2 separate regions of the Homo sapiens genome follow, and region 2 is linked to region 1. The links come from fine-mapping of genetic effects on gene expression. Tissue or cell type: whole blood. Region 1 holds a variant in brackets; the other region holds the start of a gene. All regions are shown on one strand. Distances are from middle to middle.

Evidence for each region. PIP is the estimated chance that this variant, and not a neighbour inherited with it, causes the effect.
Region 2: it holds the start of FCRLA, and the variant in region 1 is fine-mapped to the expression of FCRLA in whole blood (INTERVAL, PIP 0.97).

What each region holds. Positions count from the first base shown.
Region 1 is chr1:161,737,018-161,745,545 of GRCh38, reverse strand. No RefSeq gene overlaps it. Among named protein-coding and RNA genes, the nearest start is that of DUSP12, 8.5 kb to the left of the region's middle. RefSeq lists enhancers at 1,343-1,502, 6,339-6,548. The variant C/T (reference allele first, on the strand shown) is at 4,541.
Region 2 is chr1:161,704,833-161,709,832 of GRCh38, reverse strand. FCRLA (Fc receptor like A) reads right to left here and starts at 2,604. Exons shown (of 5, transcript NM_032738.4): 1 at 2,490-2,604. The coding sequence starts at 2,568. RefSeq lists enhancers at 2,129-2,308, 3,849-4,068.

The sequences.
Region 1 (8,528 bases):
TCTGCATCTTGAAGGATGAGTGGGAATTTGTCAGGGAAAAAGGAGGGAGATGAGGAAAGAAGTTCTAACCGGAAGGACCAACATCTTCAAAGGCACAAAGGCCAGAAAGCCCCATCGAAGTGTAAATGTGTTGTTGGAAAAGGGAGAAAGAAGGATGATGCAGATGGTGTTCACAGTTGCTTTCAGGACACTGGAAAGATAGGCATGACCAGATCATAAGGGCAACGTATGCCTTGCTAAGAAGTTTTAAATTTTTCCTAAAGATCGTGCAAATGCTAAAGAAGTTTAAGCAGCAGAATAATGCCACTTGATTTGTATTTTAGAAAACAACCCTGACTACAGTGTGTGGAATAGGCTGGGAGGACAATTCTAGAGGCAGAGTCTGGTTAAGAATTAAGGCAATAATTGAGTCAAGGAATGAAGGGTGCTGGTAGAGGAAACACAGAGGAAGGGAATGTGTTTAAGAGCGATTAAAAAGGCAGAAGGGAGGAGGCTTAGAGACCAAATGGATATGAGAGAGGAAAGAGGGAGGAATAAGAGATAACTTTATTTCTAGTTTGAGTGATTGAGTGGATGATGATTTCATTCACCAAGATGGGGAACAAAGGAGGAGGGACAGTTTGGAGAAAAGTAAATGTCATCATTGGCTGGGCTGGCTGGAGACTGGGATATGACCCTCAGAAAAGAGATAAAAAAGAGATCCAATCATCATCATCATCATCATTTTTTTTTTTTCTTTTTGAGATGGAGTCTTGCTCTGTCGCCCAGGCTGGAGTGCAGTGGTGCGATCTCAGCACACTGCAACCTCCACCTCCTGGGTTCAAGCTATTTTCCTGCCTCAGCTATTCTTCTTCCTCAGTTCAAGATATTCTCAGCCTCCCAAGTAGCTGGGATTGCAGGTGCGCACAACCCTGCCTGGCTAATTTTTTTTTTTTTTTTTTTTTTTTGTATTTTTAGTAGAGACAGGGTTTCACTATGTTGGCCAGGCTGGTCTTGAACTCCTGACCTCAGGTGATCCACCTGCCTCGGCCTCCCAAAGTGCTGGGATACAGGTGTGAGCCACCATGCCCAGCCCCAGTCATCATTTTATGAATGAACTAGGATTGATGAGATTGCCTAGGATGAGAGAATAAAATACAAAAAGAATTGAGCAATTGCTGAGGAAAAATAAGATTTAAGGGACACATAAGCAAAAGGAACCCACAACAGAAACTGAGTCATAGTGGAACAGATAATAAGAAAATTTGGTATCTTAGAAACCAAGGATGAGTCATACTAGAGAGGCCAAATAAAGTGAGGACTAAAAGCTTTCATCAGGTTTAACAATCACAAGGTCTTAGTATCCATAGCGAGAGTAGTTTCGGTGAGATTGTTGGGAGTGGGGTTGGGGAAATGGAACCTGATTGCAGGAGGCAAGGAGGAAGTGGAAAGCAGGAAAATGGAGGTGGTAGGTGTGGACTCAACTTTCAAGATGAAAGAAAGGAGAGACCATACCCAAAGGGAAGTGTGCAAGAGGGAGGTGTTTCTTTTCTTTTTCTTTTTTCTATAGGAAAAGTTGTAGACATATCAGAAGAGGGAAAACAGTTAAAGATACAGGAGAAAAGGAGTCCTTGAATTAATTAGGGGGTGGAATGGGATCCAAAGCCCAGTGGATGATTAACCTTTTCCATGGTAACCAGAGGAAAGAAGAAAATAATGGGTGGGGATGAAGGGAGGCTCAGGAGTTTTGGCGGCAAGAAGTTAAAGGCATTCTCTTCTGATGGTTTCTATTTTCTGGGTGAAATAAAAACCTAGTTTATATGCTGTGAGGATAGAGCTGTGAGAAGAATAGCCAGTTTGAGGAAAAATTGCCTGAGGAGAGTGGCGAATATGTGAATACTCTCTGTGGAGAGCATACATGGAAGCAGACCTGTGGGAACGGGCTGCTGAAGGCCTAGTCAGTGTTCAGATCATAAATATAAAAGACGTATGTGTAGTAAAGGGTTAACTCTGCAGGTTCTGATTGCTCAAGCCCTGCAAGTTCAAGGAATGGTCTGTCTTCGGGAGGACTGGCCCTTGACCAACTCCTCATGCCACACTATATCAGTTTGACTAGATATGCTAACAGCGTGACTATGGTAAAGCCTGTTTCCGTATGCCTGAGGCCCTGGGCCATGCTGTATCAGTTTGACCTCCGGGAGGCTGGAAATTGAGTAGGTAAGGTCAGTCATGCAGGTGACGCATGCCCATGCAACTGGCCCGCAATAAAAACCCAAGGCTTGGGTGAGCTTCCTGCTCGGCAATACTTCACACATGTTGCCATGCATCATTGCTGGGAAAATTAAGCACATCTCTGTACAAATTCTTCTGGGAGGCCATACCTGGAAGCTTGCACCTGGTTTCTCTTGAACTTCACCCCTGGGCCTTTTCCCTTCGCTGAATTTTAATCTGTATCCTTTCACTCTAATAAACCATAACTTTGTATATCAGCTTTTCTGAGTTCTGTGAATCCTCCTAGTAAATCAGTGAGCCTGAGGGAGCCTGAGGGAGCCTGAGGATGATCTTGGTGACTGCCGATACAGCATCCACTGTCTATAATATTGAATAACTGGAGACATCTAAATGACTACAAGTAATAGATTGGTTAAATGGGTTGTTTTATCAATTCAGTGAAATACTAGGCAACTACTAAGAAATATAACAAAGAGGGATGTGGTAGCTATATCAGAAAGTTTTTTAAAATAATATTTTTTTATTTTGTGGGTACATACTAGGTGTATATATTTATGGGGTACATGAGATGTTTTGATATAGGCGTGCAATGTGTAATAATCACATTACAGAAAATGGGGTATCCATCCCCTCAAGCATTTATCCTTTGTGCTACAATCCAATTACACCCTTTTACTTATTTTTAAATGTAAAATTATATTATTATTGAGTATAGTCATCCTGTTGTGCTATCAAATACTAGGCCTTATTCTATTTCTTTTTCTTTTGGTAACAATTAATCATCCTCACCTCCTCCCTAACCGCCAGCTACCCTTCCCAGCCTCTGGTAACCATCCTTCTACTCTCTATCTCCATAAGTTCAATTGTTTTGATTTTTAGATCCCATAAATAAGTAAGAACGTGCGATGTTTGTCTTTCTCTACCTGGCTTATTTCACTCACATAATGATCCACAGTTCCATCTATGTTGTTGCTAGTGACTGAATCTAATTCTTTCTATGGCTGAGTAGTACTCTATCACATGAGTACCACATTTTCTTTATCCATTCATCTGTCGATGGACACATAGGTTGCTTCCATATCTTGGCTACTGTGAATAGTGCTGCAGCAAACACGGAAGTGCAGATATCTCTTTGACATACTGATTTCCTTTCTTTGGGGTATATACCTAGCAGTGGGATTGCTGGATTGTATGGTTATATCATAAAGTTTTAAAAAGCTGGTTTACAAGTAGAAATGTCTGAGCACATTTACTTTAAAAATACATATATGTATGCACATATATGAAAAATGTTGAAAGATAGATGGTATATAAAACCATTAACTAGTTATTTATGGGAGTGGGCATTATGAGAGAGACTTACATGAAATGCATTATGTACTTCTTCTTATATAGTTTTTATTTATCTATTTCAACTAGTATTATTAAAATTCTTCACCATGAAGAATAATAGATATTTATATTCTGGAAAAGAGGTGAAACGTAAGGGTTCATTTACTGACATTTTATTATGGTATCCTTAGAAGTGAGATTTCCCTTCTCAATTCCCTAAAATTACTGCATAAGTTCCTTCAAGGATAGGGGCAGGAGACACATCTCGATTGTTACTGAATGCCCGCAGAGGCTGGCTCAGTATATATCTAACTGGGAGTGAATTTAACAGCTTCTGTATTTAGGATTTTAGCCACTAGGGGGCATTATTTGCCTTTTGGTAAAATACGTTTTCTCTGCACTTGTCTTGAAAAAAGGAAAAATGAATATGGAAGCCCTGTAAGAGCATAATCAGGATGTTAGGCCCAAGGAAGGAAATGCTATCTTTAGAGAGGGAGCTGGGTTGCTTTCCCGTCAAGGAAAGGAGAAGAGGCTCTCTGTTTTAGGATTAGTAGATACACACAAACACACACACACACACACACACACACACACACACACAGCCACAATTTGTTTTTATCACCATTAAAACTGCAATCTTGATGAATATTGAGTAAGCAAAAATTTCTTATAAATGCTAAGAGATCGTCAAGTGTGCGATGGCTTGCTTTTTTGAGAAGGCACCCATTTTATGTAACAAGGCTGACCGCATGCGGATACACATGACCCCAGTCTTCTTACTCTAGTTGTTTCTCAAAACTTGTGGGCTTCTAGAGCATAGTCACAGTTGTGATTTATAATTATCATCTATAGAACATTTACTATAAGTGCAGATCTCTGCTGAGCAGTCACAGAGAAATTTCCCTTCTTTTGTCTCATCACCTCCTCATCATGGTCCAAATACAAGTTCCTCTTTCTATTAATATTTCCAGCATTGCCACCAGTGCCCTCCTGCATC[C/T]GTGAGTTATCAGTAACTGTTTGTCAATTTTTACAATTATGTTCTTAATGCGACTTAAGATCTAGGACAGATGTGAAAATATACTTTGAGGCTCCCAAATAACAATGTCGAACAAAAATATAAATGGAAGAATAATAACATGATTCTATAGAAGGTAGGTACCTAGGACGTGATGAGTTCAAATTTAGCACTGTCTTTGAGGCACATAGTCTGAGGCCAGAGAAAACCTAGAAGTGAATCCCAAGCTGCATCTGGGCCTGCTACTTACTAATAGGTAATCGTGTACTCTTAAAAAGTTATTTGATTTCCCAAGTCTCAGCTCCTTAATATGTAAAATAGGAATAAGTATAGGCACATTGCAGAGCCGTAGTAAGAATGGACAACATATCTCATTAGTGCGATAAAGAAATTCTAAGTTAAACCACTGCACTAGAGGCAGTTCAGAGAGGATGCAGAACAGGAGAGGCTGGAGCTATGGTGAAGAAGTGGCCTGGAGAAATGGCTATGGGTGACTGGTGAGAAAAGCTGTTGGGCAGAGATAAATCACTACACAACCAGTCCAGGAATTCAATGGCCATGAGAACTTAGAGAAAAGTAGATCTTAATCATCTACCCTGCCACAACCACATCCCTAAGTCTGCATATTCATTTAGAGGCTCGTCTTTGTAAAGATGTGTCCTCCTTCTGTAGCACCTATTATCAAGATTCTGAGGCAATAACTTCAGCTCTACAGAACCCTAGGACCAGCGATAATGGATTGGTAGTTGAAGCCCTCTCACTGCGTAGGAATAACTTGGCCAACTGAGCAAATAACTCTTCCTGCCCAACTTCCGACCCTCCCCACCCAACCCAACATTAGCACATCCATCACATTGTTTATCTGTCCTTCTGAGAAATGCTGGGGCAGGAACCGGTTCGTGACATTTGGGCCATGCTCTCAGTTCCTTTTTTGATTCAAGAAGAAATTGGTAAACAGAGAGTCAGATGAGTGGGGCAAGGGAGACCACAGATGTTCCCCATTCCACATCAGGGTTTGCTGAGTGACACTTTGCACAAACCCTCTCCCTCCATTCTTCCCCGGACAGACAAAATGCAGAGAATGGCCATGGGTCCCGTCACAACCTTGGAGAGCTTTTGCTGCCTGCACTTAGGCCAGTGTGTTATAGTGGAAAGAGCTCTGGACTTGCATGCACAAACCCTAGATTTAAATTTTGGTTCTGTCACGTAGTAGTTAAATAACTTTGGCCCAGCCAGTTAAGCTCTCTGAACTTCTGTGCCCCTATCCAAAAAAAGTTAAGGCCAATAATGCCTTCTCTAATATTCCCTAAAGGATTTTTGAACTAGAAAAATCAGAAGTCCTGTAAACTTTAGGTTAGTCCACAGATTATTTCCAAATCCTTTAAGATGTCATGCCAACAAACATATCTCCTTACCACCAAATATATCCCCTTCTTTCTCCCAGATGTCTCAAACCATACGTTCAATTGACAGTACAAACAAAATACTTTGGCGGCTGGGACAAAGAAATAATTCATTTTAGCTGGAGGAAGCTGGGAAAAATTCTTAGAATAGGTGACTTTAAGCTGGGTCTTTCCCACGGGTGAAAGAAATGAGGGATAAGGGCCTGGAAAGGGTGGTAGAAAGAGCGATGAGGCAAAGGTGGCAGAGACATGAAGGCTAAGACACTTGAAGTTGTTTTATTCAATGTGCCTGGCATGTCTAGGCAAAAAGGAGAATTAGTTTTGAGACTTTGCAAGCTGTCTTGGAACATGTGTTCAGTCACCCTGGCCACATCCGCCCTTATGGTGGCCACAGAGTCGCAGTGCTGTCATAGGCCAGGGCTCCTGCAGTCTCGTGTCCTTGTCCCTCACAGGCTTCATGTTCACAGCCCTCTCACAGAGGATCTCAAATCCCCTTACTGGGGCTACAGGGGTACTCCATGGGCAAGTCCCACCTGCTTCTATACCTTCAGGCTATCAAACCTTAAGGCTGCCTCCAATCCAAAATGATATTCTCAGGGCAGATGACTGCAGGAAGGGCTTGTAAATGCTCCTAAAAAGAAGCAGTGTCCACTAGGTGCCAGCATGAGCTTACCAAGAATGGTCTTGCCCTGATAGTCTGTTTTTTTGGTTTTCTTTTTTTTTTTTTTTGACAGGATGAGTAGACAGGCAGATTAGGGAAATGTTCATATACTGGGTACTTCCCTAGGCTTCTGGACAGACCTCCTTGTGGACAAGGGAGATAATTATGAGCTCAATATGAGAACAGTCAACTACTCAGCCTGGCCAATATGGCGAAACCCTGTCTCTACTAAAAATACAAAAATTAGTCAGGCATGGTGGCAAGCACATGTAATCCCAGCTACTCTGGAGGCTGAGGCAGGAGGATTGCTTGAACCCAGGAGGCAGAGGTTGCAGTGAGCCAAGATCGTGCCACTGCACTCCAGCCTGAGTGACAGATTAAGACTTTGTCTCAAAAAAAAAAAAAAAATACAAAAAAAATAGAGAGAGAACAGTCAACTAGGCTGGTAATTGGTCAAACAATCATACCAAAAGAGTACAACACAGATAGGTAGCGATCAAGAAATAGATTTCTAGTGAGATAGAGCTCCACCCAAATTTCTTTCATCTGCTTTATTCAATTTTTTAAAAAAGTAATTTTGATTAGAGCATAAAGATATGCTTACCTAATATGCATGTGTTACAAGCTGGGAGGGACTGTACTGGGATCAAAAATTGTCTTATTACATTAACAAAGACATAATTTAAAAGAGATAAATATAAGGTATAAGGTTTTGCATTTTGGTCCCCAAAATGAACTGCATAAACAAAAGTTGGGGAGCAAAGAGGTGTGCTTTAGATGAAAACAATCTCTCTGGTAAGTTTATAGGCAATAAGCCCAATGGGGCTGGAGAATATCACGAGTCCTGGAGAGGAAGCTATCTCGTTAGGCTACATTCAACTCCATGTAAATGGCTGGAGTTCTATTTCTATTCCATCACTATCAAGTCATTTCAGCTCTCTGGGTCTCAATTTCCTTTCTCTCAAATTAACAAGTTAGACTAAATCCCTAAGTCTTTTCCAGCAATAAAATTCTAGGACTAACCCCTTTGTTGTCTGTAGAGGTGGTGTCAACATCCACTCATTACCATCTCAAGTGCCTTTCTGAACTGCAGAGCCTGGAAATGTAAAAGGGACCGTGACTCCCCTGCAGTGAGGTGCTTGGTGTAATTTAAGTCTGGCCATTCAGAAGCCCTTATACAACACATGGAAGGTAAAAGTGAAGCGGAGGCTGTACTACTGCAGCTGATGTTGCTTCTGGAAACCTGGTTGAGAAAGATTTTGGTTTTTCTTTACCAGCAATAGTACCTACCTAGTGTCCAGGATCTAGCTTTGTGTTGCTAGGGGCAGGGCCCTGAGCATCCATTCCTTGGACCATAGAAGACAGGTATGGTCTTGGCACCGTAGCAATAGCAGTGTCTCTTCTATCGTGACTGTTTTCTTAATCATAGCAATGGCTGTGTGACCCAAGGCTGGCAAATTTCTGATCTCAGAAGAGGCAGCAACTCCCTTGTTGAACTGATATTGGGAAACTTTGCTGAGAACACAAACTACAGTCTGTCTCTTCATCTCTCCCAACCATTTTGTAAGCTATTAAATACTGTGTAATAAATTCCTTCCTCCTTAATCCAGCTAGAGTTAATTCTGTTCTCTGAAATTGAATCCTGATCAATATAATAATATACTTAAAAAGCTCTTTTTTAAAATAAAAGGCCTGGAAGAGTGCACATCAAATTGTTAAATAGTGGTTACATCTATAACCCACTGAGGGAGTGGGTGGGAGGATGGCAAGAAAAATAGGCTTAACATTTTTTTAATACAGTATGAAGTTTTCAAATAGACTATATTCATAATAATGTTTGAAAAATTAAATAAAGTGTAACTTGTATGTTAAAAGCACAATTCATTACCTGATCAAAATGTAGCTC
Region 2 (5,000 bases), 34 kb after region 1:
TCCTCAACCTATCTCTTACCTTCATGGTAGACCTAGGCAAGGGAAGTGACATTTCTCCCTTCTCTGGGACTGCTCTTTATCTCCCTAACTATTCTCCCCCTCCTCCAGCCTCATGGCCATTCACATGTGCATACTTCTTCACTCCATCTGACTGTCATTTCGTGCCCCACTTGCCTTTATTCTCTTCCACTCCCAATAGCCCAGCGTTCTTCTTTGATTTTGTCATGTCCCTTACCAAGACCCCTCCCTACTTCCTAATTCTCATCACATCAGTACCAGGTGTTTTCTTTCCATCCTTTCTCCGCTCCCTTCACTGTAATGCTACCTCTTTTCAGTTCCTCCACTGTCACTCATCTGTGCTCTGCCTCCTCTCCATTTTTTCTTTTTAAAAATAAAATCTTATCCAGGCGTGGTGGCTCATGCTTATAATCACAGCACTTTGGGAGGTTGAGGTGGGAGGATCCCTTGAGCCCAGGAGTTTGAGACCAGCCTGGGGAACATAGAGAGACCCTGTCTCAACAAATAATTTTTTAAAAAATTGGCCAGGCCTGGTGGCACTTGCCTGTGGTCCCAGCTACTTGGGAGGCTGAGATAGGACGATTGCTTAAGCCCAAGAGGTCAAGGTTGCAGTGAGCAGTGATTGCACCACTGCACTCCAGCCTGGGTGGCAGAGCGAGACCCTGTCTCAAAACATAAAATAAAATAAAATAAAATCTTGTTGGGTTACTGGGAACTCACTCAATAAACCTTAGGTGGTAGGTATTATTATTTTCATTCTACAAATGAGAAAACTGAACCAGAAATAGAAAAAGTGATTTTCTAAAGTGACATAGAGCTGGTAAATAGAAGAGGGGCTTGAAACAGGAGTATCTGATTCCAAGTCTGCAGTTCTTATCACAAGACAAAAACAAAAAAACATTGTCACTACCCACAAATAGCTCTCAATTTAGTGGAAGACACAGGTAGATGAAAATATTATTTCAGCATAAGTAGGAAAATATTATAATAAGAAAAATGTATCGCAAGCAGCCATTGGAGCAGAAAGAAGCATTCAAGAAAAGCTACCTGGAAAAGATACCATTTAAGCTGAGTCTTTAGGGGTACCTACACATTTGCAAGGAGAAGGAGAGTAGGGTGCCATGGAAAGAACTCATTTCAGGTAGAGATAGTGGTATAAGCAAAGCCTTAGAGACAGGCAAGAGTCTGGTGTGTGAGTATGTAAATATGAACTGATTGAGATTTATTAGAGCATAAGTTACAAGGCTGAGAGGGTAAAAGTAGAGGCTGCTTGGCCTTTTGTGCCATGATAAAGAATTTGGGCTGGTAAACTTGAGTTTTAGAAATTACTCTGTCTGCAGGGTACAGAATTCATTTCAAGAACACAAGGTTTGGACGAGGAGATTAGTTAGGAATTTACTGGAATAGCCCAAGTCATAGAGGATGAGGGCTTGTCCTAAGACATTAGTGATGATCCAGGCAAGGGACTGCTTCTATGAACAATTTAGAAGGTAAAATTGGCCAAACCTAATGATTGATCAGATTTAGAGAATGAAAAAGAAGGAAGAGTCTGGGTTGTTTCTGAGGTTTATGGCCTTGTAAGGGTAGATGCTGGTGTCATTAGCTGAGATCAGAAAGTGGAAAATGAATTAGATGAGGCAGGGGCCAAAAGGACAGATAAGTTCAACTCTAGTCACATGGTGCAGAGACACTTGTGAGATATGTAGGTAGATATGTCTGGTATGAAGCTTGATATTTGAATGTGAAGCTCAAAAGCATGGTTAGGGTTGGGGATATGATTTGGGACTCTTAAATACAGAGTTATAGTGGCAAAAATTAAACAGACAAATAAGCTCATGAAGGAGATTGTGTAAAGAAAGAGGAGTACAGAGGCAAGGCTATAACTATAGAGAACACTAGTGTTTAAGGGGAAGAGAAGAGAAGCTATTAAGGGATCAAGAGAAGTCCATGTAGTACAAGGAGAAAATGGTGCCATGGAAGCCAGGGTAGTAGAGAATGCAAGAAGGAGTAAGTGATCAACAGAGCCCAGTGCAGCAGAGAAGTCCAGCAGGATATGAACTGAAAAGCATGCCATAACCCAGTCAATATAGAGATCGTTGTGCCCTAGACAAAACCAATTCCAGTGGAAGCCAGGCTGCAAGCATTGAGGAGCGTGTGAGAAGTGAGGAAGTGGAGATAGCAAGTGCAAACTATTCTTTTAAGAAAACTTGTCTCACAAGTGAAAGAAAAGAGTTGAGATTAGAGCTAGAGAGGATATCATGATCAGAGGGGACTTTCAGGATGGAAGATTTTTATATTCAGAAAGTAATTCAATCCTGTACACCAAACTTTCTTATACCTACCCTTCTTATTCCACCTGAATACTGCTTCTTTGGAGGGCCAGAATTAGTCCATGTTTCTTTCCTTCTGGTCCTTTCTCCCAAGGTAAGCAAAGCTCCATTCCCACACCAATATTCAAATATTTTACTTACCCAGTAGCATCTGGGCCACCCAGAGCACACCAAGGGAAAGGTAGAGGGCCCAGGCCATGAGGACACAGCCCAGCTTCATGGTGACTGTGTTTAGGTCTCCTGCAACCCCAACACTGATTTTCTTCAACATGAAACCTCTCAGATTAGAAAAGAGGAAGTAAATTTAACTGTCTCATCTCCTTGCATCTGGGGTCTGTTTTCATTTTCTAGTTTGTAATTGGCTTTCATCATTCAGATTTGGCCAACACGCTTTCAGCATCATCTGCACCCTTAGGGCTATGACAAAATGGTAGCACTCTCAGCTGTTCAAGAATTTACTCACAGAGCTCAGGGGCCTGTCAAAGCATGTCATTGTCTGATAGCCAGCTGGCCTTCATGTACACTCTGGGAAAGGTCAGTGCAACAACCACCCTTTTCACTGGTGATGCAACTGGGGACAGAAGGTGGGATGTTGTTTGAAGGCCAATAGAAAATCACTGGAGAATCAATGATGAGAATTCAAATGTCCTGCCCATTCCAACACTTATATGTTTCTAGTGACTAGAAGGTAGCGAGACAGAGAAGGAAGATTAGTCACGGCACCAAGTTAGATATCAGATTAGTCTCTAGTAGGCTCTGACTATCCAAAGCCCACACAAATTTGCATGCAAATTTCTCTAGACTCGTGTCAGCTCTCTATTTCTGGAGCATGACTAAGTCTGCTCAGTCTCAGTGGAAATATGAGTACAAGGCAGGGAGAATCCACTGGGAAAGAGTAGAGGAAAAAGAAAATCTATTCCCAGAGGATCCAGCAGTCAGCTCAGGGCTTAGGCTCATAGCCAAAGCTCAGGCCACTGATCCTGAGGAAATTAGAGATAGGAGGCATCCGATATCTTGAGAAACCTGAGGAGACTCAGGAATAGGAGCAATATAGAGGCTACAGCCTCTCCCTTCCGTTCCAGATGGCCTCCTGGGAACCATTGTCCCTGCCTCTGAATGTTTGCTATTTGTTTGAGGCCTACTTAATGGTAGGGCCCATGTGTCTTTTCACAGTGGCCACATTCCTCCCCTTTCTGTCATCATAACACCCACCAGGCCTCCAGTAGGTTATTTGGAGATGAAATGAGCCATCAGAAATGGGGTAAGGTAGGCCAGGCACTGTGGCTCATGCCTCTGTAATCCCAGCACTTTGGGAGGCCAGGGTGGGCGGATCACTGGACTGGAGGTCAGGAGTTCAAGACCAGCCTGGCCAGTATGGTGAAACCCCATCTCTACTGAAAAAAAAAAAAAAAAATTAGATGGGCATGGTGGTGCATGGCTGTAGTCCCAGTTACTTCAGAGGCTGAGGCATGAGTATCATTTGAACCCAGGAGGCAGAAGTTGCAGTGAGCCAAGATTGCACCACTGCACTCTAGTGTGGGTGACAGAGCGAGACTCCATCTCACAAAAAAAAAAAAAAAGAGAGAGAGAGAAATGGGGGAAGGTAGTTTGGTCCTCCTTGAAGGCAGAGAGAGGGACAGTATGACCCTTCAACTGTGCAAAAACCACAGGTCAGAGCAGACATATCAACCACACGGGCATAAGAGAGTGGATCTTTCTGAGTCTAAAATAAGCATTTAGAATAAAATTTCCATTATCGAGAGGCATACGCTTCTGTGCAGGTGGCCCCAGGGAGTCCAGGGGTGGTTGAATATGGGTGCTGGGGAAGGCAGTGAGGCAGTAAGCCTTGCAGCTGATGTGATGTGAAGCCTCAGAAGAGGAAGAAAAGCCTAGCTAGCCTTAATAATTTTTTTTTTTTTTTGAGATGGAGTCTCTGTTGCCCAGGCTTGAGTGCAGTAGCGCGATCTCGGCTCACTGCAACCTCTGCCTCCAGGGTTCAAGCCATTCTCCTGCCTCAGCCTCCCGAGTAGCTGAGACTACAGGAGCGTGCCATCACGCCCGGCTAATTTTTTGAATTTTTAGTAGAGATGGGGTTTCACCCTGTTAGCCAGGATGGTCTTGATCTTCTGACCTCGTGATCTGCCCACCTCGGCCTCCCAAAGTGCTGGATTACAGGTGTACGAATTAAACAAATAAAATGTGTTTAGATGCATCGCCACTCCTAAAACTACATAAAACATAGACCCTCAGGGTTAGGCAGAGGCTAAGGGGCTTCTAAACAAATCATGATATCTTTCTCTTCTTATGTCACCCTTTCTCCTTTACTGTCCTTACCATAGCATCTTACCTGGATAGAGACCCTCCCCTATACCATCTGCAGCAATCCTTGCAGGACCCCACTGTCAATATGGAAGGCAAGGGGCCTTCTGAAGATTTGGGGTGAAGCTATCAAGTTCTTTACACTGAAATTTCCATTAAGCTGCTGGGAAAATTTACTCGCTTGAAGCTTAATCAATGAACTATTTAGAATAGATGTGATTCACTGCGAGGAAAAAGCAACATTGGGTCTGCTGTTTGTTCATGGAGACTGAGATTCGGTTTATTGAGTAAGTTCCTCCATCAGGATCACCTCAGAATACTCAGGGGGAGATG